4 linked regions of the Homo sapiens genome follow. The protein of the gene in region 1 interacts with the protein of each later gene in a pairwise test. Each region holds a gene or a part of one and is shown in the gene's direction. Other genes may lie near its edges. The genes, in order: C19orf25, EPS8, RINT1 and INSYN1.

Evidence for each region.
Region 2: the proteins of C19orf25 (region 1) and EPS8 interact in binary tests that used the Homo sapiens proteins (3 or more experiments, as listed by UniProt).
Region 3: the proteins of C19orf25 (region 1) and RINT1 interact in binary tests that used the Homo sapiens proteins (3 or more experiments, as listed by UniProt).
Region 4: the proteins of C19orf25 (region 1) and INSYN1 interact in binary tests that used the Homo sapiens proteins (3 or more experiments, as listed by UniProt).

What each region holds. Positions count from the first base shown.
Region 1 is NC_000019.10:1,476,215-1,483,911, reverse strand, and holds the start of C19orf25 (UPF0449 protein C19orf25), read left to right. Parts: upstream 1-4,696; 5' UTR 4,697-4,749; exon of another isoform or gene 4,750-4,772; intron 4,773-5,006; 5' UTR 5,007-5,008; coding exon 5,009-5,138; intron 5,139-7,697. Other genes in the region: PCSK4 (proprotein convertase subtilisin/kexin type 4), read left to right, coding at 1-74, 145-262, 449-628, 892-1,016, 1,437-1,559, 1,705-2,153.
Region 2 is NC_000012.12:15,786,371-15,793,620, reverse strand, and holds the start of EPS8 (epidermal growth factor receptor kinase substrate 8), read left to right. Parts: upstream 1-4,232; 5' UTR 4,233-4,460; exon of another isoform or gene 4,461-4,618; intron 4,619-7,250. UniProt on the Homo sapiens protein: Signaling adapter that controls various cellular protrusions by regulating actin cytoskeleton dynamics and architecture. Depending on its association with other signal transducers, can regulate different processes.
Region 3 is NC_000007.14:105,563,201-105,568,202, forward strand, and holds the end of RINT1 (RAD50-interacting protein 1), read left to right. Parts: intron 1-532; coding exon 533-747; intron 748-1,923; exon of another isoform or gene 1,924-2,076; coding exon 2,077-2,257; exon of another isoform or gene 2,258-2,329; coding exon 2,330-2,448; intron 2,449-3,122; exon of another isoform or gene 3,123-3,918; coding exon 3,919-4,111; 3' UTR 4,112-4,253; coding exon of another isoform or gene 4,254-4,290; 3' UTR 4,291-4,477; downstream 4,478-5,002. Other genes in the region: EFCAB10 (EF-hand calcium-binding domain-containing protein 10), read right to left, coding at 2,349-2,415, 4,267-4,290. UniProt on the Homo sapiens protein: Involved in regulation of membrane traffic between the Golgi and the endoplasmic reticulum (ER); the function is proposed to depend on its association in the NRZ complex which is believed to play a role in SNARE assembly at the ER.
Region 4 is NC_000015.10:73,750,340-73,758,323, reverse strand, and holds the start of INSYN1 (inhibitory synaptic factor 1), read left to right. Parts: upstream 1-4,972; 5' UTR 4,973-6,214; intron 6,215-6,461; exon of another isoform or gene 6,462-6,626; 5' UTR 6,627-7,193; coding exon 7,194-7,349; intron 7,350-7,984. UniProt on the Homo sapiens protein: Component of the protein machinery at the inhibitory synapses, probably acting as a scaffold. Inhibitory synapses dampen neuronal activity through postsynaptic hyperpolarization.

The sequences.
Region 1 (7,697 bases):
CCTGGTGGTCCGCGCGTCCAAGCCGGCGCACCTGCAGGCCGAGGACTGGAGGACCAACGGCGTGGGGCGCCAAGGTGCGGCGGGGCCGGGCGGGGGCGGGGACCCGGGGCCCACGGGGCGAGTGACTGCTGCCCTTCCGCGCAGTGAGCCATCACTACGGATACGGGCTGCTGGACGCCGGGCTGCTGGTGGACACCGCCCGCACCTGGCTGCCCACCCAGCCGCAGAGGAAGTGCGCCGTCCGGGTCCAGAGCCGCCCCACGTGAGACCCCTGCGCGCCCCTCCGCTATCCCCGCTGGGGGTGTGGGGGACAGGCCTGAGGCCTCAGTTTACCCATCTGTAAAACGAGGGCTGGACCCCGTGACCTCTGAGCCCCGACCTCGCCTGCTGGCCGCCCACCCACCCCCCAGCAGGCCGCAGGAGGGTCCTCACCCCTCGACCCCCTCAGCCCCATCCTGCCGCTGATCTACATCAGGGAAAACGTATCGGCCTGCGCCGGCCTCCACAACTCCATCCGCTCGCTGGAGCACGTGCAGGCGCAGCTGACGCTGTCCTACAGCCGGCGCGGAGACCTGGAGATCTCGCTCACCAGCCCCATGGGCACGCGCTCCACACTCGTGGCCATACGGTGAGCGGCCCGCAGAGGAGAGGGGGCGGCCTCATGCCCTGTCGGTAAACGCTGCCATCTACCCGGAGTGTCCTCACGGGGAGGGGCCAGGCCCATAGGAGTCACACGGCAGCCTAGTTGGTGGGACCCCGAGTCACACCCTCACCCACACCCAGAGGACACGCGGCCACCAGCGCGTGCGGTCAGACACTTCATGGGGCTCTGCCGGCTTCACAAAGCCATCCCTCTTGACACCCCCACCCCCACCCACCCTTCTGTCCCAGACCCTTGGACGTCAGCACTGAAGGCTACAACAACTGGGTCTTCATGTCCACCCACTTCTGGGATGAGAACCCACAGGGCGTGTGGACCCTGGGCCTAGAGAACAAGGGCTACTATTTCAACACGGGTGAGGGCGGGGCGGGGCTGTGGTGGGCGGGGCTTGGCTCTCCAACCTCCCCCCAGGGGCTCTGGAGCTAGCCTTGGTGACCGCACTGCAAAAGGGGTTCCCAGTGGCCTTCTCCAAGAGAACATGCACACAGTAGGCGTGCAGTCACCCGGGAGATGGTGTGCAATGACAGGCACACAGTAGGTGTGCGGTAACACGGGAGATGTAGGTGCCCAGTGACAGGCGCACAGTAGGTGTGCAGTCACCCGGGAGATGTCGGTGTCCAGTGACAGGCGCACAGTAGGTGTGCAATTCCCTGAGAGATGTGAACCAGTCCAGGGCCCCGCGTGGGAGCTGAAGGGGAGGGAGCCCGGGGACTACCAGGACCAGGCTGCCGAGAGCCTCCTTTTCCTCCTGTGCCCACCCGCGACCCCTGTCCAGGGACGTTGTACCGCTACACGCTGCTGCTCTATGGGACGGCCGAGGACATGACAGCGCGGCCTACAGGCCCCCAGGTGACCAGCAGCGCGTGTGTGCAGCGGGACACAGAGGGGCTGTGCCAGGGTGAGTGCCGGCGGGGCAGGGCCCACTGCTGGGAGGCGGTGGCGGCCACCGTGGGCAGCGTGCATGTGGCCCCAGGCGGGCGGGTGGCGAGTAACAGGCTGCGGGTGGCAAGCTGACGGGCCTTTGCGTGCGTGTCCCCGAGCAGCGTGTGACGGCCCCGCCTACATCCTGGGACAGCTCTGCCTGGCCTACTGCCCCCCGCGGTTCTTCAACCACACAAGGCTGGTGACCGCTGGGCCTGGGCACACGGCGGCGCCCGCGCTGAGGGTCTGCTCCAGCTGCCATGCCTCCTGCTACACCTGCCGCGGCGGCTCCCCGAGGGACTGCACCTCCTGTCCCCCATCCTCCACGCTGGACCAGCAGCAGGGCTCCTGCATGGGACCCACCACCCCCGACAGCCGCCCCCGGCTTAGAGCTGCCGCCTGTCCCCACCACCGCTGCCCAGCCTCGGCCATGGTGCTGAGCCTCCTGGCCGTGACCCTCGGAGGCCCCGTCCTCTGCGGCATGTCCATGGACCTCCCACTATACGCCTGGCTCTCCCGTGCCAGGGCCACCCCCACCAAACCCCAGGTCTGGCTGCCAGCTGGAACCTGAAGTTGTCAGCTCAGAAAGCGACCTTGCCCCCGCCTGGGTCCCTGACAGGCACTGCTGCCATGCTGCCTCCCCAGGCTGGCCCCAGAGGAGCGAGCACCAGCACCCGACGCCTGGCCTGCCAGGGATGGGCCCCGTGGAACCCCGAAGCCTGGCGGGAGAGAGAGAGAGAGAAGTCTCCTCTGCATTTTGGGTTTGGGCGGGAGTGGGCTGGGGGGAGAGGCTGGAGCACCCCAAAAGCCAGGGGAAAGTGGAGGGAGAGAAACGTGACACTGTCCGCCTCGGGCACCGCGTCCAACCTCAGAGTTTGCAAATAAAGGTTGCTTAGAAGGTGCTCAGTCTGTGGCCTCCTCTGGAGCAGGGTGGGCCCGAGGCCCCAGGGCTCAGGTGGTTTCTGCTTGGGGTCCCCGGACATCAGTCCATGGAGAATGCAGCCGGCCACGGAGAAAGAGTCCGCCCAGGCCCAGGGACCCCAGGCAGTGGGAACAGCAGGGAATGGCCGGGGGTCAGCAGTAATGTCCAGCCCCAGAACATGGCTCACCATGGCCCAGAATCCTCTCCTGCGGTGATTCCTTTGTTTTTTTTCTTGTTTGTTTTGAGACAGGGTCTCCCTACGTTGACTAGGCTAGAGTACAGTGGTGCGATTGTAGCTCACTGCAGCCTTGAACCCTGGCCTCAAGCAATCTTCCCTCCTTGGCCTCCCAAAGTGCTGGGATTACAGGCGTGAGCCACTGTGCCTGGCCCTTTCCTCCCTCCCTCCCTTCCTTCCTTTTCTTTACTTCCTTCCTTCTTTCCTTCCTTTCTTCCTTCTCTTTCCTTCCTTTTTTAGTAGAGATGGGTTTCACCATGTTGGCCAGGATGGTCTCGATCTCCTGACCTCGTGATTCGCCCACCTCGGCCTCCCAAAGTGCTGGGATTACAGGCTTGAGCCACCGCACCTGGCCCCTTCCTTCCTTTCCTTTTCTTTCTTTCTTTCCTTCTTTCTCTTTCCTTTTTCTTTCTTCCTCTTTCTTTTCTTTTTCTTTCTCTCTCGCCTTCCTTTCTTCCGTTCTTCCTTCTCTTTCCTTCCTTTCCTTTCTTTTCTCCCTTTTCTTCTTTACTTTCTTCTCTTTATTTCCTTTTTCTTTTTTTTCTTTCTCTCTCTCCTTCCTTCCTTTTTCTTCTCCTTCCTTCTTTCCTTTCTTTCTCTTTCTTTCCTTTTCCCTCTCTCTGTCCCTTCCTTCCTTCCTTCTCTCTCAACAATATTTTTTTTTTTGAGACAGAGTCTTGCTCTGTCGCCCAGGCTGGAGTGCAGTGGCACGATCTCGGCTCACTGCAAGCTCTGCCTCTCGGGTTCATGCCATTCTCCTGCCCCAGCCTCCTGAGTAGCTGGGACTACAGGCAACCGCCACCATGCCTGGTTAATTTTGTTTTTCTTTTTGTATTTTTAGTAGAGACAGGGTTTCACCATGTTAGCCAGGATGGTCTTGATCTCCTGACCTCGTGATCCACCCACCTCGGCCTCCCAAAGCGCTGGGATTACAGGCGTGAGCCAACACACCCAGCCTAATTTTTGTATTTTTAGTAGAGACGGGGTCTCACCATGTTGGCCAGGCTGGTCTCAAACTGGCCTCAAGTGATCTGCCCGCCTCGGCCTCCCAAAGTGCTGGGATTACAGGCATGAGCCACCGCGCCCAGGCTGAATTTACAGTTTAAACAGGCGAATTTGGCCGGGCGCGGTGGCTCACGCCCGTAATCCCAGCACTTTGGGAGGCTGAGGCGGGCGGATTGCCTGAGCTCAGGAGTTTGACACCAGCCTGGGCAACACAGTGAAGCCCCATCTCTACTAAAATACAAAAAAAAATTTTGACGGACGTGGTGGCGGGCGCCTGTAGTCCCAGCTACTCGGGAGGCTGAGGCAGGAGAATTGCTTGAACTCGGGAGGCGGAGGTTGCAGTGAGCTGAGATCACGCCACTGCACTCCGGCCTGGGCGACACAGTGAGACTCTGTCTCTAAAAAAACAAAACAAAACGAAATAAACAGGAGAACTTTATGGTATGTAAACTGCATCTCAATAAAGCCCCTGAGAGAGGAAAAGGGCCCTCTGCTCTTTCTGCCTTCCCAGGCATCAGCGGAGAGGAAAAGGTGACCTCCAGCACCGTCCCCGAGGTGGGAGGACCCGCCTTGGCCGGAAGTGGAGGCGCCGCGACCGCCCCGCCCCCGCTGTGTTCCGGCCGCCGAGTGCTCATGCACCACCAGGCTCCCTTAGGTGGACAGCAATTTTGTGCTCCCGTCAGCCACATGGGTGGCGTGTCCCCTAGTGCCGTGTTCCCCTTTTCAGAAAGACGAGCCTCGGATGCTTTTCTACCCAGCCAGTGGAGCCTGGACTCGAACTCGCTCTCATCGTAGCGCGTCCAGGTTCGGGTTCGCCTGAGAGGCTGAGATCCGAGTCTCAAGGGCACTATCCCTTTAAGACGGGGCGGAGCCCCGCGATGAGCGGCGGGCCGGCGGGAGAGGAGGCCGGAAGTGTGTGTCACGTGTTCGGGGACGGGGCGGTGCTCCGACCGGAATCGGAAGTGGCTGCGTCGTCGACGCTGGGCTTTCGGGTCCCGCGCCCAGGTGGGAAGAGGCCGGCGACTGGGGTGACCGCGGGGAAACTGAGGCAGAGGTTGAGCCAGACCCTGAAGCCTTGGCCACCGTGTTTTTGGGCGGAGGGAGGGTCAGGGCCTGGGGCGAGCTCAGAGGGGCGGGACAGGGCGGGCTTCCCCGGGAGCGGGACCGCGACGGGTGCGTACGAGTTCGCTGGGCGGGAGGAGCAGCCCGGGCAAGGGCGGAGAGGTGGACGCCCCGGTCAGCGCCCCCTTCCCCGCCTTCAGAGATGGGCTCCAAGGCAAAGAAGCGCGTGCTGCTGCCCACCCGCCCAGCGCCCCCCACGGTGGAGCAGATCCTGGAGGATGTGCGGGGTGCGCCGGCAGAGGATCCAGTGTTCACCATCCTGGCCCCGGAAGGTAGGGGGAGCCCGGTCCCGGGGAAAAGCGGACCTGAGACCCCGGCAGCAAGGGGACGGGAGAGAAGCACACCCCTAACTCCTGACCCCACGCCCTGGGAACCCCCGCAACATGGGCACGGTCCGTATCCTCTCCGAGTCTCCCTCTACTCCTCCGTAGAGTGGGACCGATTTTCAGAGGGTTCTTCTGACAGGGGTGGAGGCCGGGCGCTGTGGTTCAGGCCTGTAAGCCCAGCACTTTCGGAGGATGAGGCGGGAGGATCGCTTGAGCCCAGGAGTTCGAGACCAGCCTGGCCAACATGGTGAAACCCCGTCTCTGCTAAAAATGAAAAAACAAAACAAAAACAAAAACAAAAACAAAACAGAGTTAGCTGGGCATAGTGGCAGGCGCCTGTAATCTCAGCTACTCGGGAGGCTGAGGCAGGAGAATCGCTTGAACCCGGGATGCAGAGTTTGCAGTGAGCCGAGATCGCACCACTGCACTCCAGCCCAGGTGACAGTGCGAGACTGTCTCAAAAAAAAAAAAAAATTACTGGGTGTGGTGGTGGACACTTGTAGCCCCAGCTTCTTGGAGGCTAAAGTGGGAGGATACAGCCTAGGCAACACAGCCAGACTGTGTCTCAAAAATAAATAAGTGGCCGGTGCGGTGGCTCACGCCTATAATCCCAGCACTTTGGGAGGCCGAGGTGGGTGGATCACTTGAGGTCAGAGGTTGGACACCAGCCTGGCCAACATGGTGGAACCTTGTCTCTACTAAAAATACAAAAATTAGCCGGGTGTGGTGGCATGGGCCTGTAATCCCAGCCACTCAGGAGACTGAGGCAGGAGAATCACTTGAACCTGGGAGTCGGAGGTTGCAGTGAGCTGAGATCACGCAACTGCACTCCAGCCTGGACCACAGTGAGACTCTGTTTCAATAATTATAATAATAATTAATAAATAGAAATAAATAAAGTAAAACAGAGGTGGTAAGCTAGGGCCCCCCAAACCCTGCCCCTGGCTGTTTTTTTAAGGTCTGGGAGCTATGAATGGACTTCACATTTTTAAATGGGGGTGGGTGAAAAAGAACATTTCTGACACCTGAAAGAGGTATGAAATTCAGATTTCAGTGTTGGTAAGTAAAGGTTTACGGCACACAGCCAAATGATTCACATACGGTTAGTGGCTGCTCTCACACCAGAAGGGCAGAGTTGAGTAGTGGGAGCAGAGACTCCAGCCTTTGGCAGGAAAGCTTGTCCACTCCTGATTTACGAGGTGGAAGCTAGTCAGAGACCAAAGGATTCAGCAGTGCAGTTGGGTGAATTTTGTGTTCTGGATGAGGCTCATTCATTCATTCAACAATCCTTTTCTTGAGCACTTCCTGTGTGCTGGGCTCTGCGCTTAGAGCACTGCTAATGGACAAGTGAACAAAAGAAACAAGAATGTCTGCCCCAGGCTGTTCTGGGGCTGGCGGGAAACAAATGAAGATGAATCGGCCAGGTGCGGTGGCTCACACCTGTAATCCCAGCACTTTGGGTGGCTGAGGTGGGCGGATCATTTGAGGTCAGGAGTTCAAGGCCACCCTGGCCAACATGGTGAAACCCCGTCTCTACTGAGAATACAAAAACATTAGCTGGGCATGGTGGCGCATGCCTGTAATCCCTGCTACTTGGGAGGCTGAGGCAGGAGAATTGCTTGAACCCAGGAGGCGGAGGTTGCAGTGAGCTGAGATCGTGCCACTGTACTCCAGCCTGGGTGACAGAGCAAGACTCTATCTCAAACAAAAAAAAAAAAGAAAAAAGAAAATGAGCCATGTGGAATGATAGAAACTGTGAATTTCTAAGGGAACATTTTTAAAAAGTAATATTAGAAAATTCTGGGGCCAGGTGCAGTGGCTCATGCCTGTAATCCCAGGACTTTGGGAGGCTGAGGCAGGAGGATGACTTGAGGCCAGGAGTTCAAGACCAGCCTTGGCAGCATAGCAAAACCTATATCTACCAAAAATACACAAACTAGCTGGGTGTGGTGGCATGCACCTGTGGTCTTAGCTACTCAGGAGGCTGAGGCAGGAGGGTTGCTTGCGCCCAGGAGTTGGAGTCTCCAGCCTGAGTGACAGAGTGAGACCCTGTCTCTGAAAAAGAAAAAAAGAGAAAAATTGAGTTGTGTTTTCCCTTTAGACATATTTCAAGTGCCCAGGAGCCACACATGGCTGGTGGCTGGTGTGGACCAGCATCGGTGGGAGGTGTGCGCATCATCTGGAAGGTTCTGTGGGCCGGTACTGGTCAAGGTGCATGAGTTGGTTTTATTCCCAGCATGCAGTTCGGTCACCTGAGGGTGCTGGGGCCGTGGTTTGAGCTTCATGGGCTCAGGTCCATGGCCGTTGAGTGTGGCGAAACTGAGGCACGCTGTGCGGGGGACGGGGGGCGCTCACAGAAGGTAGGGGGCCTCCTGTGCCTTCATCCAGGCACTGCCCGGCCTTTCCCACCCTGTTGCTAAAGCAGGTGATGACAGAGGTGATTTGATCAGCCCAGACCCGTGCGGCACGTGGAGCCTTCGTCCGTGGGAGACCACACTGCCGAGG
Region 2 (7,250 bases), on another chromosome or scaffold:
AATTTCCATGTTAAGAATACTTCCTATCATGCTTCAAAATTTCCATACATTTCTAATTACATATTACAAAAGAAATTAGGGCATTTTGACATTTGAAGGCTAAAGCAAATTGAGTTTGTTAATCCAAATGGGTGTAAAGAAACATAACTAACAAGAAATATAAACATCAGTTACAAAGTAAGAAGCAAGCCCAAGCACCTCCTAAAGTGAGAACAAATATAATAATCCAAGCAATTTGGTTTGTTCTTTCAACAGTGTGAAATAATAACAAGGGTGATAGCCAACCTGAAATTACTTGTCTACCAAGTTACACTTAGAAGATTTAGATCATCATAATAATAATATTCTAAGCTACAGTGTACCTTTTCTAGATTTACTCATGGATATGTTTTATGTTATATGGCTTTAAGGCTGTGAGTCTACAGAGGTATACACAGCAGTCCCTAAATTATATTCATACATCAGATTGGGGAGTGGGAGTGAACAGGGATGTTTGAAGAATTCTGACTCTTGGGTAATGTGGAGATAGCTCTTACTCCCCAGATAGAATTCAGTCATTATAATTTCTCCACATTTTCTGTATGTAGCATTTATACCCAGCTGTAGACTCTGCTCCTATATTTTGGGACAGAGTATTGCTCTGTCACCCAGGCTGGAGTGCAGTCAACTGATCTTGGCTCACTGCAACCTCTGCCTCCTGTGTTCAAGTGATTCTCATGCCTCAGCCTCCCAAGTAGCTGGGACTACAGGCGTGTGCCGCCAAGCCTGCTAATATTTGTATTTTCAGTAGAGATGGGGTTTCGCCATGTTGCCCAGGCTAATCTCCAACTCCTGTCCTCTGGTGATCGTTTGGCCTCGGCCTCCTAAAGTGCTGGGATTACAGATGTGAGCCAATGAGCCTGGCCTGCACCATATTTTGAATGCCCCATTCACTCCAGGTATCTATCTCCATTCTACATCATTCCTACATCATTTTCATCCCAAATGCCAACATATACTAATGAGATTTTCAAAAAGGAAAAACTTGTGTATAGTGATACTCTAAATAGGTAAGTTTGACATAGATTCTTAACAAAAGTATAAACCAGATTATTAACAATGGTTTTAGTGGGATCACTAATACCAGAATGGGTTAATCTGAAAACAGATCTTATTTAACTAGCTTCCTTTTTTTTTTTGAAAGAGTTTCTTGGACCAGTAGATTTGGGGATGCTAGAAACAGTAAATCTTTATTTCAGCAAAGCATCTAGAAAACCTTCATGAACTCCATGTTGGTTATGGTATGGGTGCATGGACTAAAGTGCTTGAAAAGTGTTGGTTCATAAATGACTGTTACCTTGGAGATCTATTTTGGCAGTGGGCTGTCTGAAGATACAGGGGAAAAGAAACCCCAAACCTAAGTGTTTTTTTCTGTTCTCTTATTCAACAATCAACATAGAAGACTTCTGTAAGCTCTGGTTACCAAGAAGTGTGTAAGAATTTCCCCTACCAGCAATCAACCAATCAATCCTGCAGCAGACACAAGCTGGGTGTCTTCAATTCAATTCTGAAACTATCTACCTGGAGATAATGTCAGATCCTACAGGTTGAGGGCTCAGTCCCACAAGACTACCCTGACTTCAGATGCCAAACAAAAAAGCCCCAGGTGGCTTTACTTGTGCTTCTGGCTGAACAACTAGAAATTAGGGTTCCCGTGACTCCCTCCTTGAGTTTGGTTATTTTGCTAGACCTGCTCACAGAACTCAGGGAAACATGTTTACCATTTTCTTATAAAGGATATTACAGAGGATACAGTTGAAGAGATGCATAGGGTGATTTATGCCCTCTCTGGGAGCACCGCCATCCAGGAATCTCCGTTTAGTTATTCATGTTCCCCTCTCTGGAAGTGCATGTAACCCATTCTTTTTTTTTTTTTTTTTGTGGAGGCTTTATTGCGTAGGCATGATTGATCAAGTCATGGGCCATTGGTGATCAGCTTAACCAGCCCCGGAAGTTAGAGGGTGGGGCTGAAGGTTCCAACACACTAATCATGCCTTGGTCCTTCCTATGACCAGTCCCCATCCTGAAGCTATGCTGGAGCCCCCAGCCATCAGCCAATTCATTCAAATACAAAAAGATGTTCATCACTTTGGAGATTTCAAGGATTTTAGGAGCTATATGTCTGGAAATGGGATGAAGACCAAATATATATTTTATAATATCACAGGCCTTTTTAAAGCCCGTTCTGTGTTACTGTTTCTTACTAGACGTAAATGGAGCCAAACAAGGCATACTTATTAAATTTACAAATGTTAAAAGTGATCACTAGTATTTATCTGAAATTGTGTCCTAAAACAAACACGATAAAATTTAATAAGAATAAAACAAAAATCAAGATTTAAATACATAGAAGTATAGACTATGAAAGGTGGAAGATACGGTTTAATTTAGTTGATGTGAAATAGACTTGGGTGTTCTGTTTGAATCTAGGTAGTGTGTGCTTGCATCAAAGGGGTGGCTGATCAGCAGCTGGAGAACTGGAACTCAGTTCTTGGCCCACTGTATTTGAATATTGTATTCTCAGTGCACAATTTAGAGAGGAGAATGAAAATCAAAACACATTCAAAGCAAGGTGAATAGTGTGATTATGGCAGCTCACTGCTATTTGAAAAACACTTAAAAGAGAATTTTTGAAGAAATGTATTAGATCTGTTGGTTACTTAATAGTTGCCCCTACTATTTCAAGGCTTGCAGTGTCTATAAAGAATGAGATTCATATTGTGTTGTTCCTAGGGGCAGAACCAAGACCAGTAGTATCAGGGAAGTTGATTTGATGTTCATAAATGATACAGGCTATAGTGTTAAGCAGACCTGGTTGTTAATTCTGGCGTCAGCATTGGCTTTGGCAAAAAGAAGGAAACTTCTGGGTTTCATTTTCCTAATGTGTTTAATAGGTATAATAAGGCCCATCTCATTTTAAGGACTAGGAATAATGTGTGTAAGTTGCTCAGTTCCTGGCATAGGTAAATATTCAACAAATAATCATGGTTATATGTAATGATAAAAATAGAAATTTACAACATTGGAAATGTTCAAGTGGATAGTGGTCTGGTGGAAATATTGGAGAGAGTATTCCCACTTAAAATAGGGGACTGGACTTAGCCGTTATATCGATTCCAACTTTTAGAATGGTTTGAATGTCCACCTTGGCATGTTACGTCGTTTCTCCCTGACTGTGCTTTTATTTGCTTCACAAAGCAAGCAAGTCCAATCTCTTTTAACCAAGTTTAATTTATAGGCTTTCGTGGACTTCTGGAAGTCAACTGACTTCGAAGTTAGGACAGCATGGGGGGATTGGGGGAGTAGCTATGACAATGAGGAGTTTTAAGAGTGAGAAAACACAATGTCTATGAGAACATGGACTTCTCTTTTAGAGGCTCCATGAGCTACTCAGAGAGGAGGTTATGAGGGTTGGTTAAGGTACGAGAGGCACAAAGTGAAAGAAGCCTCCACTACTTCAAACCACATCAGGGCTTTTGGCAAGAGCTACATGAAAAATAGGCTCACAGGCAGCCTGGCGAGGCGGGTCTGGGCTTGCAGGCTGGCGCTAAGGACCGGCAGTTGGGAGACTCTCAGGGACCCGATGGAGGGCCTTGGGCACCACCAGTTTACCGCATGGGTTGGAGAGACAAAAAAAGAGGAGAGCGACAAAAGGGGGAAAATAGGTCCGATGATCAGAGGAGGAAGACGAAGGCTGGCTGGTCATTAGATGCGTCTTGTTTGCCGCCAAAGGGCAGGGGTTACGAGCTGTGCAGCCAGACTGGGTGTTGCAACCCGAGCGCTCCCTCCGCCCGGGGCGTCCATCCTCGCCGGGGGCGAAGCTCTCCACACGCTCTTTGCCCCTTCCTGCGCCTCCTGGCTGCTAGTCAGTCCTGTTAGGGCACTTCTGGAAACCTGCTGTCGACTCGCTGCCTTGGTCCGACTTTGATCGCGGCCTTGATAACTTGGCGCAGCGCCCCGTCTCCTTTCCTCCGGTCCCTCTCCCGCCCACCCGGCCTCACCGGCCACTTCGCCTCAAGCGCTGGAGTCGACCAGAACTCTGCGGCTCGGCTGCCGGCAAGACCCGGATAGCGGATTTCGCTCCTGGCTGCGGGGCGCGCACTCGCCCGCCCGCCCGCTCGCTCGTTCCTCGCGCGGGCACTGGGCATGCGCGGCGCGCGGTTGGCACTGGCTGCGAGCGGGCGGGCGGCTCCAGACTTCACAGGCAGCAGCTAGCGAGGCGGTCTCGCCCGGCGCGAGGCCGGCGCTGTGCTCGCCTCGGAGATCGCTGCTCTTTAGCTGGGTGCAGAAGGCGGCTCCGCGGCTCGCGGACGACTGGCTGGGCGCGAATCAGATTGGGGGGCTTTCTCCCGGTCCCCTCCCACCTCGTCTGGGCTCGCGGCGTCTCCGGGGAAAGCCGTGGCCCCGAGGGCGGATCCGAGGTAAGAGCCCCTTGGCGAAAGGCGCCGGTCCCGGGGTCCGGCGGCTTTGACTTTCTCGATTTTAAAAATCCGCCTTTGTGTGCTGGAATCGGAGCGGTGCCAGGAGCCGCGTCCGCCTCCCTTCACTTTGACTGCTTTCAACTGGTGTTGGCAGCCAGGTGCGGTAGGGCGCTGCGGCCGGAGGCGTCCGCTCGCCGGGTCCGGGCAAGCTGTGGGGCCCGTGCAGACCCGCGCCCAGGGCTCCGGGAGGCTGGGCAGGGAGGGTTCGCCGTGGCCCAGTGATATTCATGGTAACCTGAGCTTCCGCAGATACACCTGCGCTCATCTGGTCCGTGGGGCGACTGCAGACCGAGTATCCCGATCTCGGCTTATTACGTTAGACTTGGGATTTGTGCGCTGCTCTGCCAACCCGCCTCAAATGGGGAGGGGTTCTTTTCAAAATGACCCTTTAGGGCAGGGTCCCACCCCCGTTTACCCCCTCGAATTAACATAGCTAATTGTTTCGGAATCGTTGTCAATGCCTAATGGCTGTTGACTTTCTTAGCTTGCTCCACTTTACTCACCATTTTACTTTTGGGAAGACAGACGGCCTTTCTCCGGTTGTGGTCAGTTCATGCATTTGAAAGGGGTTTCCCCACCCATGTACTCCCTGCCCTCTCCGATGTTCTCACTCTTACTTTCCTTCCTAGGACTACCTGTTTGCAAAATCTTTGCACCGACCGTTCTCCGGCAGTGTTTCTCAAATCCTCCTCCTCCCATAGGGCCCGTAGTACTGTTGGAATCTCGCGGGGGGCAGGACGCCGTGGTTAGGATTTGAAATCCGCAGACATCTAGAGCGGTGAAGGATTAGGAATTAGAATCCTCCTTTACAAAATATGTTTCAGTGAAATGTGTTACTGCTTCTCTTTTCAAGGTTTCTTGCCTTAGATAGTAAGGGGAATAGGTAAAAGAGCTAATATGTTAGGATGAGTTCAGGTAAAACTTGATTTCAGATGTGTGAAGAGTGTGACTTTTTGGCTTTGTCATTTTTGGGAAATAGGAGAGTTAGGATTCCGGGCAATCTTCTTTATATTGAAAAAGCCCCTCAAAGTAACTGTGTTGTGTATTGCCTCTAGTTTATTTTCATTGAAAGGACTCCATTCTTCCACAGCTCCTTGGGTTCTGGAAAGTGAGCACTAGTAATGGACGTCATGTGGTAGTGAGTCTATTGGAATTAAAGTCAATGTCATCCTGTCTCACCTAGTATAGATTTTTTGTTTGGGATCGCAGTTTTCTAAACATATTGCTGTAGTTCTTAAGTTGCTGGTGTGGAAAATTTTTGGTCACGAATTCACACTTTTACTTACAATTTGACAGTTAAAACAGTATAGAATTGTCACATAAAGGGTAAGGTAGAATGTATCACAAATGCAATAGTGATAATATAATGCCTTTATTGCAGAATACACAGATTGAGACTTTGTAAGATTGCACCACAAGTCATTCACTTTATAGCAGAAAAAAAAGAAGGAAAATATAATTTGCTTTTAATTCTACTATTCTGAGATAACCGCTGTTTACAAGACTTGGTGCATTCTCTTTGTAATTTTTTTCACTTCCCAATGTCATTGAATATTATATAGTAATTTCCAGTAAGTGTAATTTAACTTATACTGTTAGTAGCCCCACTCTTAATAGGGTGATGTTTCTTTTGTTTCCTGTCAGGAACCTAATGTCTAATTTTGAATATTTTGCTTGTTTGTGATCAAACTTAAAGATTTATTTTGTTTTTATTTCTAGCTTTTTCCTGCTTTCAAGGTTTTATCAATACTGATTCTTTTCAGATACCAGTTCTTTTCTATGCTATGGCATAGGCTTGCTACTCTCTACTTTGTGTTTATTACATTCCAAATCCTAGTTATTTTCTTACACTCTGTTTCACACCCTTTACCCTACTGCTTTTTATTCTTCTCTCTACTCCCTTCTTTTACATACCTCTTTTAATTCTGCAGCAGGTCACTTGAACCAAGGTTTGTATAAGAAAACATAGTATCCAGAATAGGAAATGATAGGTTTTTAAAAGTTGTCTCTTTAAATACTTGAAGTTCTATTGGATGAATATTTTAACACTGATTTATGTAATATTTATATACAACTCAGCTTTCCTGAGTTGTGTGAAACATACTTGGTAGTTACACGGATCATCACAAAACAACATAAGTTAATGATAAGGTACAAACTTTTGGACATCTGTAGAGGTATGTCGGGGGAAAAAGTGGAATTTTAATTAAAGTATTCTGGCTATAGTAAATCCCTCCTGGGAATTATTAATACTACATGAAATTGTTTGCAGCTGTTAGTGATTGAAAATATTTTTGTAAGAAAAATTCTGCATTGGAATAGTTGCAAACATTTTAAGTTGAATATATGCAAGAAAGTTTAAGGGTCTTCAGTGCTTCACTACAACCTTTTCAGTATTTTCTAGATGTATTCCTAAATGGGATTTAAAAAAATAGACCTTATTTCTCAGAAGTTTTGGATTTACAGGAAAGCTACAAATACGGTGTCTATATACCCCCATACCAGCTTCCCCTCTTATTAACATCTTGTATTATTGGTATTTGTTACTATTAATGAACCAGTATCAGTACATTAGTATTAACAAAGTTTATACTTTATTTAGATTTCCTTAGTTTTTAATGTCCTTTTTCTGTTCCAGGACCCTACCATCCAGGACACCACTAAATGTATTTCCTCGTAATGTCTCCCTAGGCTCCTCTTGGCTGTGACAGTTTGTTAGACTTCCTTGTT
Region 3 (5,002 bases), on another chromosome or scaffold:
ACAGGCAAATCCATTGAGACAGAAAGTCAATTAGTGGTTGCCTATGAGTTGAGGGAGTGGGGAGACGGTATTAGAGGATAACGGCTTTTTTCTTGGTGATGAAAATGTTCTAAAATTGTGATGGATATACAACTGAATATATAAAAAAATCATTGAATTATACACTATTATTAGTTTTGAGATGGAGTCTCACTTTGTCGCCCAGGCTGGAGTGCAGAGGCATGATCTCGGCTCACTGCAACTTCCACCTTCCAGGTTCAAGCTAGGATTACAGGCACATGCCACCACACCCGGCTTATTTTTGTATTTTTAGTAGAGTTGGAGTTTCACCATGTTGGCCAGGATGGTTTCGAACTCCTGACCTCAGGTGATCCACCCACCTCAGCCTCCCAAAGTGCTGGGATTACAGGCATGAGCCACCGTGCCCGGTCGAATTATACACTTTAAATGGGTGAATTGTATGACATATGAATTCTATTTCAAACTGTTAAAAAAAAAGTATGCTAATGTGTTAACATGTTTTTGCTTTCAGTTCTTTCTACAACTTCAACAGGCTGCACTGGAGGTGTTTGCAGAGAATAATACTCTGAGTAAATTGCAGCTAGGACAGCTAGCCTCTATGGAGAGCTCTGTCTTTGATGACATGATTAACCTCTTAGAACGTTTAAAGCATGATATGTTGACCCGTCAAGTAGACCACGTTTTTAGAGAAGTTAAAGATGCTGCAAAATTGTATAAAAAAGAAAGGTATGTCCTCTATGTAAGTCAGCTCTTAACACCAGTTTGGTAAAAGTTAAAGAATATGTGGTCAGATTTTCAAGGTGTCTAGATAGAACCCGGTTTGGCCTTATGTACTTTATTGTTGATGGAAATATTTCTAAAGTATGTTCTCTTGGACATTTTTTTTGAGACAGTCCTACTCTGTCACCCAGGCTGGAGTGCAGTTGCACGATCTTGGCTCATTGCAACCTCTGCCTTAGAGGTTCAAGTGACCTTCCCACCTCAGCCTCCCAAGTAGCCAGGACTACAGGCATGCACCACCACACAAGGCTAATTTTTGTATTTTTAGTAGAGATGTGGTTTCACATTTTGGGCAGGCTGATCTCCAACTCCTGACCTCAGGCAAGCCACCTGCCTCGGCCTCCCAAAGTGCTAGGATTACAGGTGTGAGCCACCACACCTGGCTGACATTCTTAATCAGAATAAACTGATTATAATTTAGTTGTTTGTAAATATATCAATAGGATAGTGTGTGATCTGGGGTTGAATAGCCTAACCTGTCTCCCATTTTGCAAAGTAAAGTGCACCTGTGGTACTCTGCATACTTTTGTTGTGGTTTATCCCACTACCATTCACTGTGAACACCTGTGTTACTTTCATCCTTGATAGCAAGCAGTATCTTTTTGTCCTAGCATAGTCCCTGCCACACAGAGTGCTTAAAATTCGTTTATTAGTCCTGTTTTTACTAAAAATTAGAGGATAATATTAGCTGATGTCTTAATTAAAATGCTAAAATCAGGCTGGGTGCAGTGGCTCACACCTGTAATCCCAGCACTTTGGGAGGCCAAGGCGGGCAGATTACTTGAGGGCAGCAATTCGAAACTAGCCTGGCCAACATGGCGAAACCCTGTCTCTACTAAAAAATTCAAAGATTAGCTGGGCGTGGTGGTGGGCACCTGTAATCCCAGCTACTTGGGAGGCTGACACGAGAATTGCTTGAACCCTGTGGCTCTAGCCTGGCCAACAGAGCGAGACTCTGTCTCAAAAAAAAAGAAAAACTACATAAATAAAATGCAAAAATTAAGTGACATTTTAAATTGTAATTGCCTTATATCAGTAATTCACATATTAAAATTTGGGGATATTTTGGATATATCCCCATATTAAAGAGTATTTGAGAGTGAAAATATAAATACAGGTACATTTATTTTCTGATAGAGCTTTTAATGTTAGGCTGTATATTTTTTCTTATCCAAAATGCCCTAGGACAGAACACTTCCTCAAATTTAAAATGATTTAAAAACTTGAAAAATAGAAACTGATGAAAATTTTTTGGTAAAAATGTGTTTTTTCCAGATGGTTGTCCTTGCCATCTCAGTCAGAGCAGGCAGTGATGTCCCTGTCCAGTTCGGCTTGCCCGTTGCTGCTGACGTTACGAGACCATTTACTTCAGTTGGAGCAGCAGCTTTGTTTCTCCTTATTTAAAATTTTCTGGCAAATGCTTGTAGAGAAGCTGGATGTATACATCTACCAAGAAGTAAGTAAGAATAGACTGTTTTTGGGCTGTGATAATAAAGACAACTGTTATATGAATTATTCTTTGTTTCAGATAATTCTTGCTAATCACTTCAATGAAGGAGGAGCAGCCCAGCTGCAGTTTGATATGACTCGGAATCTTTTCCCTTTGTTTTCTCACTATTGCAAGAGACCAGAAAATTATTTTAAACAGTAAGCTCAACATTTAACAATTAATATTAATGTATCAAATTGTTACAGGAGGCTAACTCCTTTTAACTTTAGGGTTCTGGAGATGTTTGGGTGGGATAAGATCAGTTGAAATTTTAAAACATTGTCTATCTACTGTATGCTTACAGCACAATGGGGAAACCAAGATGATAGATGTGACCCATGACCTCAAAAAGTTTCAGAACTAGATATAAATTACCTGTTGGGTTTTGTTTTCTAGTATTTGGTTTAATGCTTCTAGTTGCTTAGTTACTGGAGGAATAAATAGAAAATGAAAACAAGTACAGTTGTGCCCTATTCACTAAATATAAGAAATTACAGGGCCGGGCGTGGTGGCTCACGCCTGTAATCCCAACACTTCGGGAGGCTGAGTTGGGCAGATCACAAAGTCAGGAGATCGAGACCATCCTGGCTAACATAGTGATACCCCCATCTCTACTAAAAATACCAAAAAAAAAAAAATTAGCCAGGCCTGGTGGCGGGCACCTGTAGTCCCACCTGCTTGGGAGGCTGAGGCAGGAGAATGATGTGAACCCGGGAGGCGGAGCTTGCAGTGAGCCAAGACTGTCTCAAAAAAAAAAAAAAATTACAAATATGTTTAATACCTAATAGGCCAGGCCTGAAAGAAATTTGTTTCCTTAAACATTTGACATTAATTTTGGTTCTAAATATAATTATAGTTTCAGAATTTGTTGATCTAAAATTTATAGGCCAGGCATAGTAGCCCACATCTGTAATCCCAGTACTTTGGGAGGCAGAGGTGGGAGAATTGCTTGAGGCCAGCTGTTTGAGACCAGCCTGGGCAACATAGCAAGACTCCATCTCTACAGAAAGTATTAAAATGAACAAACAAAAAAAAGCCAGGTGTGGGGGTGTGGACCTGTAGTCCTAGCTACTTGAGAGGCTGAGGCTGTAGTGAGCTATGATCGTGCAGTTTCACTCCAGCCTAGGTGACAGAGCAAGACCATGTCTCAAAAAAAAAAAGTAAAATTTAAATTATGTTTGGGTTTTGTGAGGTTATAAAGCATTCCTTTTAGACTTATAAAATGAAAGCTTATGTTTACACGTTTCATAGGACTGTTTTTAAAATTTATTTTAATGTTCTTTCTGCTGCTTTCATTTATCTCTTATTTTTGTCTTTTCCCATGTTCTAATCTACCTAAAGTTATAGCTATATTTAATATAGTGTTAATATTAAGTATTGTATTTAGGGAAATAACGGATACATATTGAAATAGGGATCGTATTACCTTATAGTAATCTAAAGAAATAGCAACTCTGCACCTGTGTAGTCTTACCATGTTAAAAGAACCAAATAATAAATCCATAAATATTTTTATAGAGAACATGTGGACCAGCAGTGCAGAGAAGCTGTTTAGGATTCTCAAAATTGTAATATAATTGATGCAGATAATGGAGATCTCATTTCCCTCCTTTGTTTTCCCTAAACAGTATAAAAGAAGCCTGTATTGTTTTGAATTTGAACGTCGGTTCTGCACTACTGCTGAAAGATGTACTGCAGTCAGCTTCAGGGCAGCTTCCTGCCACAGCAGCATTAAATGAAGTTGGAATTTACAAACTGGCTCAACAAGATGTTGAGATTCTACTTAATTTGAGGACAAATTGGCCTAATACTGGAAAATAATGTCTTTCAGAAAAAGGTTTCTTTGGTTTTTGTTTCTAAGAAAGAGGAAGCCAATTGGATTTCAAGTTATATGATGAAATTCTGAATTAATGAAACTGGAAAACTTTATAGAATTACTTATTATCTTGGATTTATGGTGTTATTAAAATGCTGACCATATTTCCTTCATCCTCTTGTTCCTAAGGAAACAAAAACAGAAAACGAAACAATGAAAACTCAATTCTATTTACAAGTATAAATGCTGAGTATGTCTGTTGAAGACGAGCAGAGATATTAAATTATAACCAACTTTCAATTTCCTGTGCTAATTAAGGGAAATTCTGTTGTGGATAATCAAACATAGCCAATAAATTTTTTTAAAACTCCCTTTGAATGCATATTTGTAATTGAGGCACCTGTATCTAGTTTGGGAATTAACTGTATTTCCATGAGGAAACTGGCAGGGCACAGTGTCTCATGCCTGTAATCCCAGCACTTTGGGAGGCTGAGGTAGGAGGATTGCTTGAGGCAGGAGTGCGAAAACATCCTGGCCAACATGTCAAGACCCTGATGCATGCCTGTAGTTCTAGCTACTTGGGAGGCTGAGGTGGGAGGCTAGCTTGAGCCCAGGAGGTCAAGACTACAGTGAGCTCTGATTGTGACACGGCACAGCAGCCTGGGCAAGCGAACAAGACCCTGTCTCTAAAGAACAAAACAAAACACATTGTGAGATGGTGAATAAGATAGGATTGTTCTTCATTTCTCACAAATGCCCTTCTATTTTAAATGCTTCCTAGTTTCATTCTGTGTGACAGTGGGCAACCCTTTCTTTCTGGATGAAACATTTCAGGCCATGGCACTCTGACTCAAACATTCCCATGTGGTAGGGAATGTAATTAAACATTTTTATTA
Region 4 (7,984 bases), on another chromosome or scaffold:
TGAACATGATACATGAACTGTTTTATTTAGTCCTCAAGACAGCTACCAGGAAGGTATTTACAGAACGAGAAACTTAGGCTTGGGAAGATTAAATGAGTCACATGGTTAATGGAAAAGCTGGCATTGGTGCCCTATCATTCCAACTCTACTGCCTAAGTGTTAGGCAGTGCTTCCATTTCTCTCTGTAGACTCTCTCTACTGTCTCTATTATCTGTTCGAAGCCCAAACATGCCCACTGTCACCCCGGCACTGCTTCCCTGGTGTCAGGATCCATTGCTTCTGAGAATCTAGCTTGCAGACTGAATCCTCGTTCTCTCCTGAGCTGCATGCCAGTCTCAGTCCTGCGCTATTAGAGAGAGTAGACTGCAGACTAAATAAAAACAGTTACCATTTCTTACCATTCTTCCAACTCCTGCTCCCTCACCCCCACACCCCAGGCACTGTGCTTGGTGCTTTTTGCTCCTTATCTCATTCCATCCTCAAAGCAACCCTAGGCAGTCACTAGTACTTTGCCTATTTTATAGACAAAGGATCTCAAGTTCAGAGAGGGCAAGTAACTTGCCTGAGATCACACAGCTAGCAAATGACAAAGCTGGGGCCCAAATCCAAGTTGGCCTGTTGCAATAATCTCCCAAATGCCCCCACTTCCCCTCCATGGCCACAGGGCAGCAGGTCCCAACCCTCTGGCTTCAGGATTTGGAGACATCTTACCCCATCTGGGAACCCAATTACTCAGTCAATCATTTAGTCAGCTCATTTAGTATTTCCTGAGTGCATCTGTCAGGCTCCAGTTGGTTACACGAGACAGAGACCCCACCAAACGAACTGGAGCAATATGAGGAATTTATCAGCTCTTAGAGATGAGTAGGATGTTGTTGCAGCTCTCCAGACTGAAAGAAGAACTGCAGGAGTGAAGGCCATGAGAACAAAAACTGGGACTCAATGCTGCTAGCATGCTCTCTAAATTCCTCTCCTCTCTGCTGCCTTGCTCAGCTTCCTAGATTGAGTGGGAAAAATGGCTTGTCAGCAGGTTTGGACCATAACATCCAGTTTTGCACCCCACTAGGAAGAGGGGTTCTTCCTCCCAGCATCCACATATCAATCCCAGGGAAAGAATCTGATTGGTCCTGCTTAGGTTATGTGCCCACCCCTTGGACCAATCACTGTTGCTGGAGGATGGGGTTCCACGGTTGGTGCAGTCTGAGTCACATGCCTAGTTAGTGGCAGTGGGATAGGGATGGGTGGGAGTAGTGGGCACTTTAACTGACAACCCACTAGGATTATGTGATGACAGCAGGGAGTTTCCCCAAGAAAAGGAATGCTAGAACTGGATGGTGGAAAACAGGCAGACAGGTAAAAATCGCTGTCTACTGTCTACTGCAGTGGTCCATGTGAGAGATGGGCAGACACACACAAGCCCATCATGAGGAGTTCACAGACTCACATGGAAATAAGGCTTACAGACATGAAGCCATGAATAAGAGCTGATAGCAGCTACCATTTACAGAGCACCTACCAGGTGCCAGGCACTGGGCCAAGTACTTCCATGTGCATTATCTTATTCCATGTTCACAGTGACCCTGGAAAGTAGTCATTATTGTCCTGATTTTTCTGAATCAGAGAGACAGTGAAATACATCCCCCCCCCTTTTTTTTTTTACAAGAGACCCAATTCAAGAAAGAATTAAAATGTTTATAGGCTGCTATCCTTGCTCAGAGAGGTTAAGTGACTTGCTCAAGGTCACACAGCTAGCACATTAAATGAATGCCCTGGGAAGCATTTGGTTAAGGGCAAAAAAAAGTGCTTCCATTTCTCTCCGTAGACTAAAGCACTAGGGAAGGCTGCCTAGAGGGTGGAGGTTGGCGGTGAATAAGCAGAGATCTAAAGGATGGGACATCTAGGCAGGTGGCCAGGGAGGTTGGGTGGAAGAAAGGATGGATCAATCCCCAAACACTAAGGAAGGCAGGTCTGAGCACCACCCAGATACTATCTATTCCCTCTCGCCTGTGGCAGCTCTTTGGAGATTTACAATCAGAGACCCCTTCTCCTGAGTCTCCTCTTCTCTAGCCTGCTCTGACCAGCCCTACCATCCTTCATAGAACATATACACCAGTCACCTCCCCTATTCTACTTGGCTGTCCTCCTATGGACACACCCAATGAATTGAGGTGCTAGGCACAGTTTGATCCACACAAATGACAGAAGAAATGTTACCTCCCTTTTTCAAAACACTGTGCTTCTATTAATGAGACCCGAGATCAATTATGTATTAAGCAGTCACAGTCCACCCTGTCCAATCAAGCTCACTGTCTCCTAACCTTGCCAGTTCAAACACATCTCCCTCATCCTGGATGAGGGCGGATGATTCCCTGGACCTAAGACTAGAAACTCTTTTTTTTCAGGCTTAGCCCATTTTTGGTCTCGGCTGTTCCTTAGCATCACTGCTTCCACAAAAGTGATTGGTGAGACTGTGTGATTCCACTTATATGAGGCACCTAGAGTAGTCAGAGTCACAGAGACAGAAGATAGAATGGTGGTTGCCAGGGGCTGGCGGGGGGAGGGGTGATGGAAAGTCACTGTGAGATGGAATAAGATAATGCATGTGGAAGTACTTGGCCCAGTGCCTGGTGCCTGGTAGGTGCTCCACAGAGAGTGGCTGCTATCAGCTCTTAATCACAGAGTTTCAGTTTGGGATGATGAAAAGGTTCTGGAGATGGGTGGTGGTGATGGTTACACAACAATGTGAATGTACTTAGTGCCACTGAACTATGCACTTACGAATGGTTAAGATGGTAGATTTTAGGCCGGGCGCAGTGGCTCACGCCTGTAATCCCAGCACTTTGGGAGGCCGAGACAGGCGGGTCACGAGGTCAGGAGATGGAGACCATCCTGGCTAACACGGTGAAACCCCGTCTCTACTAAAAACACAAAAAAATTAGCCGGGCGTGGTGGTGGGTGCCTGTAGTCCCAGCTACTTGGGAGGCTGAGGCAGGAAAATGGCATGAACCTGGGAGGCGGAGCTTGCAGTAAGCCGAGATCGCGCCACTGCACTCCAGCCTGGGTGACAGAGCGAGACTCTGTCTCAAAAAAAAAAAAAAAAAAAAGGTAGATTTTATGTTACGCATATTTTGCTACAATTTTTTAAGTGATTGGTGGGCCCTCTGGATCCACCCCATCAGAAGAACATCTCCCCAACCCAGGGCAGCTGGATTCCCACCCTCACAGCTTCTGGTTCTCCAAAGGCAACCCCTGAGCTGAATCTCAAGGAAGTAGGAGTCAGTTCCCCCAGCAGCCCCCTGTGAATACATCTCTGAGATAACTCAGAGACCAAGGAACATCATTAGCACCCACAGTACCATCACTGTCTCTGGAATTCAAGTCCCCCATGGGCCAGCCTAAAACCACCACCTAGCCCCACCTCCCTTGACCCCTCCTCTGCCTCTAGTTCAAGATCTCTGCTTCCCCGCCACTTAAACTTTTGAAAATGTCATCTGTACTCACTCCTGTTCCTCACTGTTGGGCACATAGTCCTCGATGCCCAACAGTTTGGTTCCTGTCACCTTCTACCCTCCAAAACCAATTGCCCCTGCCATGTCACCCGTGGCCTCCTGAGTACCAAGACAAATAGACACTTTCTGTTCCTTCTCTCACAGCCACTCCCTGCCGCGTTCGACACTGATGAGCACTTGCTTCTCCCAAACTCCTCCTACTGGGCCTACATAACTCTCCACTTTCTGGTTCTTCTCCTATCTTTCTAATCACTCCTCCCTCTCACTCATGGACTCTTTTCTGAGGTTCCAGCCCAGAACTACTGCTTTTGTTACTTCTACGCAGCGTCCCTGTTCATCTCACCCCTCTAATGATGGTTCAAAAAAAAAAACAAACAAAATGTTACTCTCAAGCCCCAGCCTCTCTCATGAGCATAGATTCATAGACTCCACTGTCTTCTGGCCAACGGTGAAATAGCCTCCTAACTGCTCTATCTCGGTGGCACCTCCTCACACCCACTCACAATGCCCCAGAGGGGTTTCCTGAGAAGGCAAGCAGGCCCAGGTTCCTCCCAATATCAAAGCTCCCTCCGCCCCGGGATAAAATCTAAGCTCCTAACCATGGTCTCTGAGTCTCTCTGTGGTCTGCAGTCAAAATGGTATCTAAAAGGCCCCAGTTAACTTAAACTCCCCTCCTCCCATTTCTGCTTCTGAGCCTGTGCTCCCACCCTCCTCCCTGCCTGGAATGCTGATCCCCAACCCCCCACACTGACAGTCACTCCTACTCCTCCTTTGAGATTCAGCTCAGGGGTGGCCTACCTGGCAGAACCCGCCAGGCCCTGGCCTGAACTGCACCACCCAACCCACACTTCCCTACTCCCCTGTTAACATTGCTTCCAGAATTTGCCTCTGTTGTGACTCAGGAGTGTCCCCGAGCCGTGAGCTTCCTGAAATGCTCTGGTGGCCCCGGAGCCTAGCATGGAACCTGATGCACAGAAGGCCTCTAATACATGAGTCAATTGTTGAATAGCTGAAGGAAACGATGGGTGTCCAAGACAGCCTCCAACCCCCAGCCCTGCCGACCCAGAGCTTGGCACACAGTAGGTTCTCAGGAAAGGTTGGCAGTATTCTATTTTCTGAATGAATGTGATTTCAGGCAAGGTCAGGGGCTGGGTTATGTGGGTGGTAGAAGGGAGGGTCTGGATGCGGGAAACGTGGCCAAAAGGGAAGCTTGGGGGCAGTGCAGTAGGGGAAGGGGGCAATGGGGGTGTCTGGAGAGGTGGGAAAGGAACGAAGTCCCCAGAACGCTGTCCCTCCGCGCCCCAGGTCAGCCGGCGTGGGGTCCGGTCAGTCCGCCTCCAGCCCCGCCAGCGAGACCCTTCCCCCTCGCCCGGGTGGCGAGACCCCCCTGGCTCGCACGCTTGGCCCTCGGGGTTGGGAGGCGTGTGTGTCGCTTTAAAAGCTCCCTCCCGGCGCGGCGGGCCGGCCCCTTCCCTGACAGCGCCGAGGCAAGCGGAGCCAAGCGAGCCGGGCGGCCTTTAAGGGAGCCAGCGCCCGCCCGGGCGGCCAGTCCGGCGGGGGGCGGCGGGGCGGGCCGGGGGCGGCCGGGGCGCGGGCGGCGCGGCGCCGCGGCGCTTGGGGAGCGGGCCCAGGCCCCGGGAGCCCGGCGGGGCAGGGCAGGGCGAGGCGGTGAAGGGAGGCCCAGCCCCGACCCGGCGCCTGTTTGCCCCACCGGCGGCGACCCGGCGCCCGGGGGCTGCTGAGGCGGGGAGCCGAGAGCGAACGGACGGGAGGTAGCGGAGCCGAGCGGAGGCTGCGAGCCTAGTGCGCCCCGGCCCGGCCCGGCCCGCCGCTCGCCCCCTCCCCTCCCTTCCCCTCGCCGCGCCTCCTCCCCTCGCCTCTTCTCGCCTCCTCTCCTCTCCTCCGCCCGGCGCTGCTCCCGCCTGCGCCCGGGCCGCCGAACCCAGCCCGGCCGGGGCCCCCGGCTTCGCGCGCTCTCGGCTGGGCCCGGCGGGGACCGGGTCCCCGCGGCTGACATCGCCCCTCCTCGGGGACCCGGTGGATTCCGGACCTTTCGGAACGTGAACTGAGCCGTGGGAGCGGTCTCGCCCAGGGCCGACCGCGGGGCTGGGCTGAGCAGACCCTCGCGGCCGCTCCGGACGCCGCGGGTGCCGGGGCACGGACGTTCTGGGTCCGGGCTGAGCGCGTCCCGGGCGCCCGGCGGTGCCAGCTCACTCCGGGCGGGGTAGGGCAGGGCAGACCCCAGCGGAACACGGACCCGGCCGATCTGGACTGGACAGAGCGAATCCCGGACGGTGCAGAGCCCGGGGAATGCCGGGCGTGGGCTGAGGGGATCCCGGCGCCCTCCCAGCCCTCCGACTTTGGCTCACGCGCTGGGACCTGCCCGGCGTCTCCTCGGCCTCCCCGCGCCCCGGTCACCTGTGGCCTCGGAGCCCCAAATCTGCCGGACCCTCGCTCATTCCCGACCCCGAGCCTGGAGAGGCTTGAGAAAGATTTTTCCTGCCCCCTTCCCTGGAGCGCGGAGGCCCCGCCCCCTCCCACCGCCCAGATGTCTCCGGTCACGGCTCGGAGGACCTCCCTGAGGCCCGGGGCCGAAGGGTCCAGAGAGAGAAGCCCGCCCTAGGGAGCCTTGGGGGCCCCCCAACTCCGTCTTGGGGCTTGGCCCCCGACGCTGCTTGGAGGGAAGGCCGGTGCCCCCACCCTCGGTGAGTCCAGGAGTGGGGGTTCTGAGGGAAGGCGGGGCTGGGGGAGGGAGGGTCCGCTGGGAACGAGGGCACCCTGGGGGCGCTAGGAGGGAGGATGGGTGACTGGAGAGGCCCTCTGGTGAACCAGCCTGGGCAGGCCTGGCTGGGGGGAAGGTGGGGGGGGAGGGCGGGAGCTACGGCCAGGGTGCCCCGTAGCAGGCTGAGGACTTCTGCTTCTAAAGCAGGGGCTCCCTCCCTTTCCCTCTAGAGGAGGGGCTGTGCTGTAAACCGTCTGCCTCCACCACCCCTCCCCACAAAGAAAAAAAAATCCCCAGCGAGGAAGGGTGCAGGCTGGCGAGAGGAGGGAGGCAGCGGCATTGCCGGCTGGTGCTGCAGCCTGGGAGGGCTGACGCCAGGCTCGCTCTCTCCGCAGGGGGCTGCCCTCTTCCAATCCAGCTCCCTCCCCAGAGCTGCCCATATCCGGAGCCCCTTCCACATCTGGAAGACCCTGGCCACCATCCCTCTGCAGGTGTCAGTTGCATCCAGAGACCTCTGCCTTTGCAACTGCCTAGGAGTTGTGAGGGGATCCCTGCTGCCTTCCCCCATCCCAAGGGCATCTCTTACCCTTAGTCCCTGCAGAGTCATCCCCCTGCCTCTGTGTTCAAGCTCAGGCAGAGATCAGCTCTGCACACCCACAGGCACTTCAAGACCTGGAGGCCACTCCTGGGACCCAAGGTCCCTCCCCCTCCTCTCCTGTGTCCTCACCTTGACCCCCTCTGCTAGACTCTGTCTCCCTCTGGGTGTCCCACTCTCCACCCAGAGGCAGAGGAGGCTGGGTGGCAGGGGGCAGGGGCTGGTTGAGGGCCGCCCAGGGCCAGGGTGGGCTGGGGGGCCGTTAAAATGTGGAGCTCTGCCCAGCCGAGGGGGGCTCCGTGGAGGCAGACGCAGTGTGTGCCCAGCTGGGGGGAGTATGGGCAGGCCTGCGGCCACGTGGTAAACGATGAACATTCGGGGCGCCCCGGACCTCGGGCAGCCCAGTGACGACCCCAGCAGTGGTGGTGAGCGGGAGCGGATTCGACAGCGCATGAAGATGGTCATCGGGCAGCTTGAGGGCATCCTTCGCGAGCTCAAGGAGGTGGCCAAGGAGCTGAGGGAGGTAAGTGAGGGGTGAGGAGGGACCAGACAGACCCTAAGCCAACCTTCTTGGGTTTGGCACAAAAACGTACTCATAAATACGTTGGAGTGTGCAAAGCTGCGTGCACATGTGTCACTCTACTGGGGACCTTCTTTCTCCTTGCTCTCCTTTCCGCAAATCTGCTTTGCTAAAAATCTCATCAGACCCCAAGGCTGGAGGGGCCTCGGTGTTGTAGAGGTTACTTGAGCAGCATGTCAGTGGGCCTGGAGCTCTGGGTTAGCACAAAGGGCTGCCAAGATGGCCAGTAAGGACTGAATCCCGCCACAGCTTCTTAGTGGAAGACAACCTTCTGGGACCCAAGCTGACCCTTGAACCCACCATCTGTCTCCCAGACTCTGATCTGGTCACAAGGGACCCTGGGAGAGTGCAGATAGTTGTGCTGAGGTGGTTTCCACTGCTTGAGGCCCAGCTCAAAGCATATCCCTAGAAATCACACAGATACTGAGAACCCTTGATCTTGGAAAAATTTAAGCCAGCTATGTCCTCTTTGTCCGGGGGTAAGAATGGGTCTGGGGGTGCTGTAGTGGATAACAGAGTTCCTTGCATATTTTGGCAGGGGCAGGAGTCTTCCCTAAGGGGATGCGAGTCTCCATCCC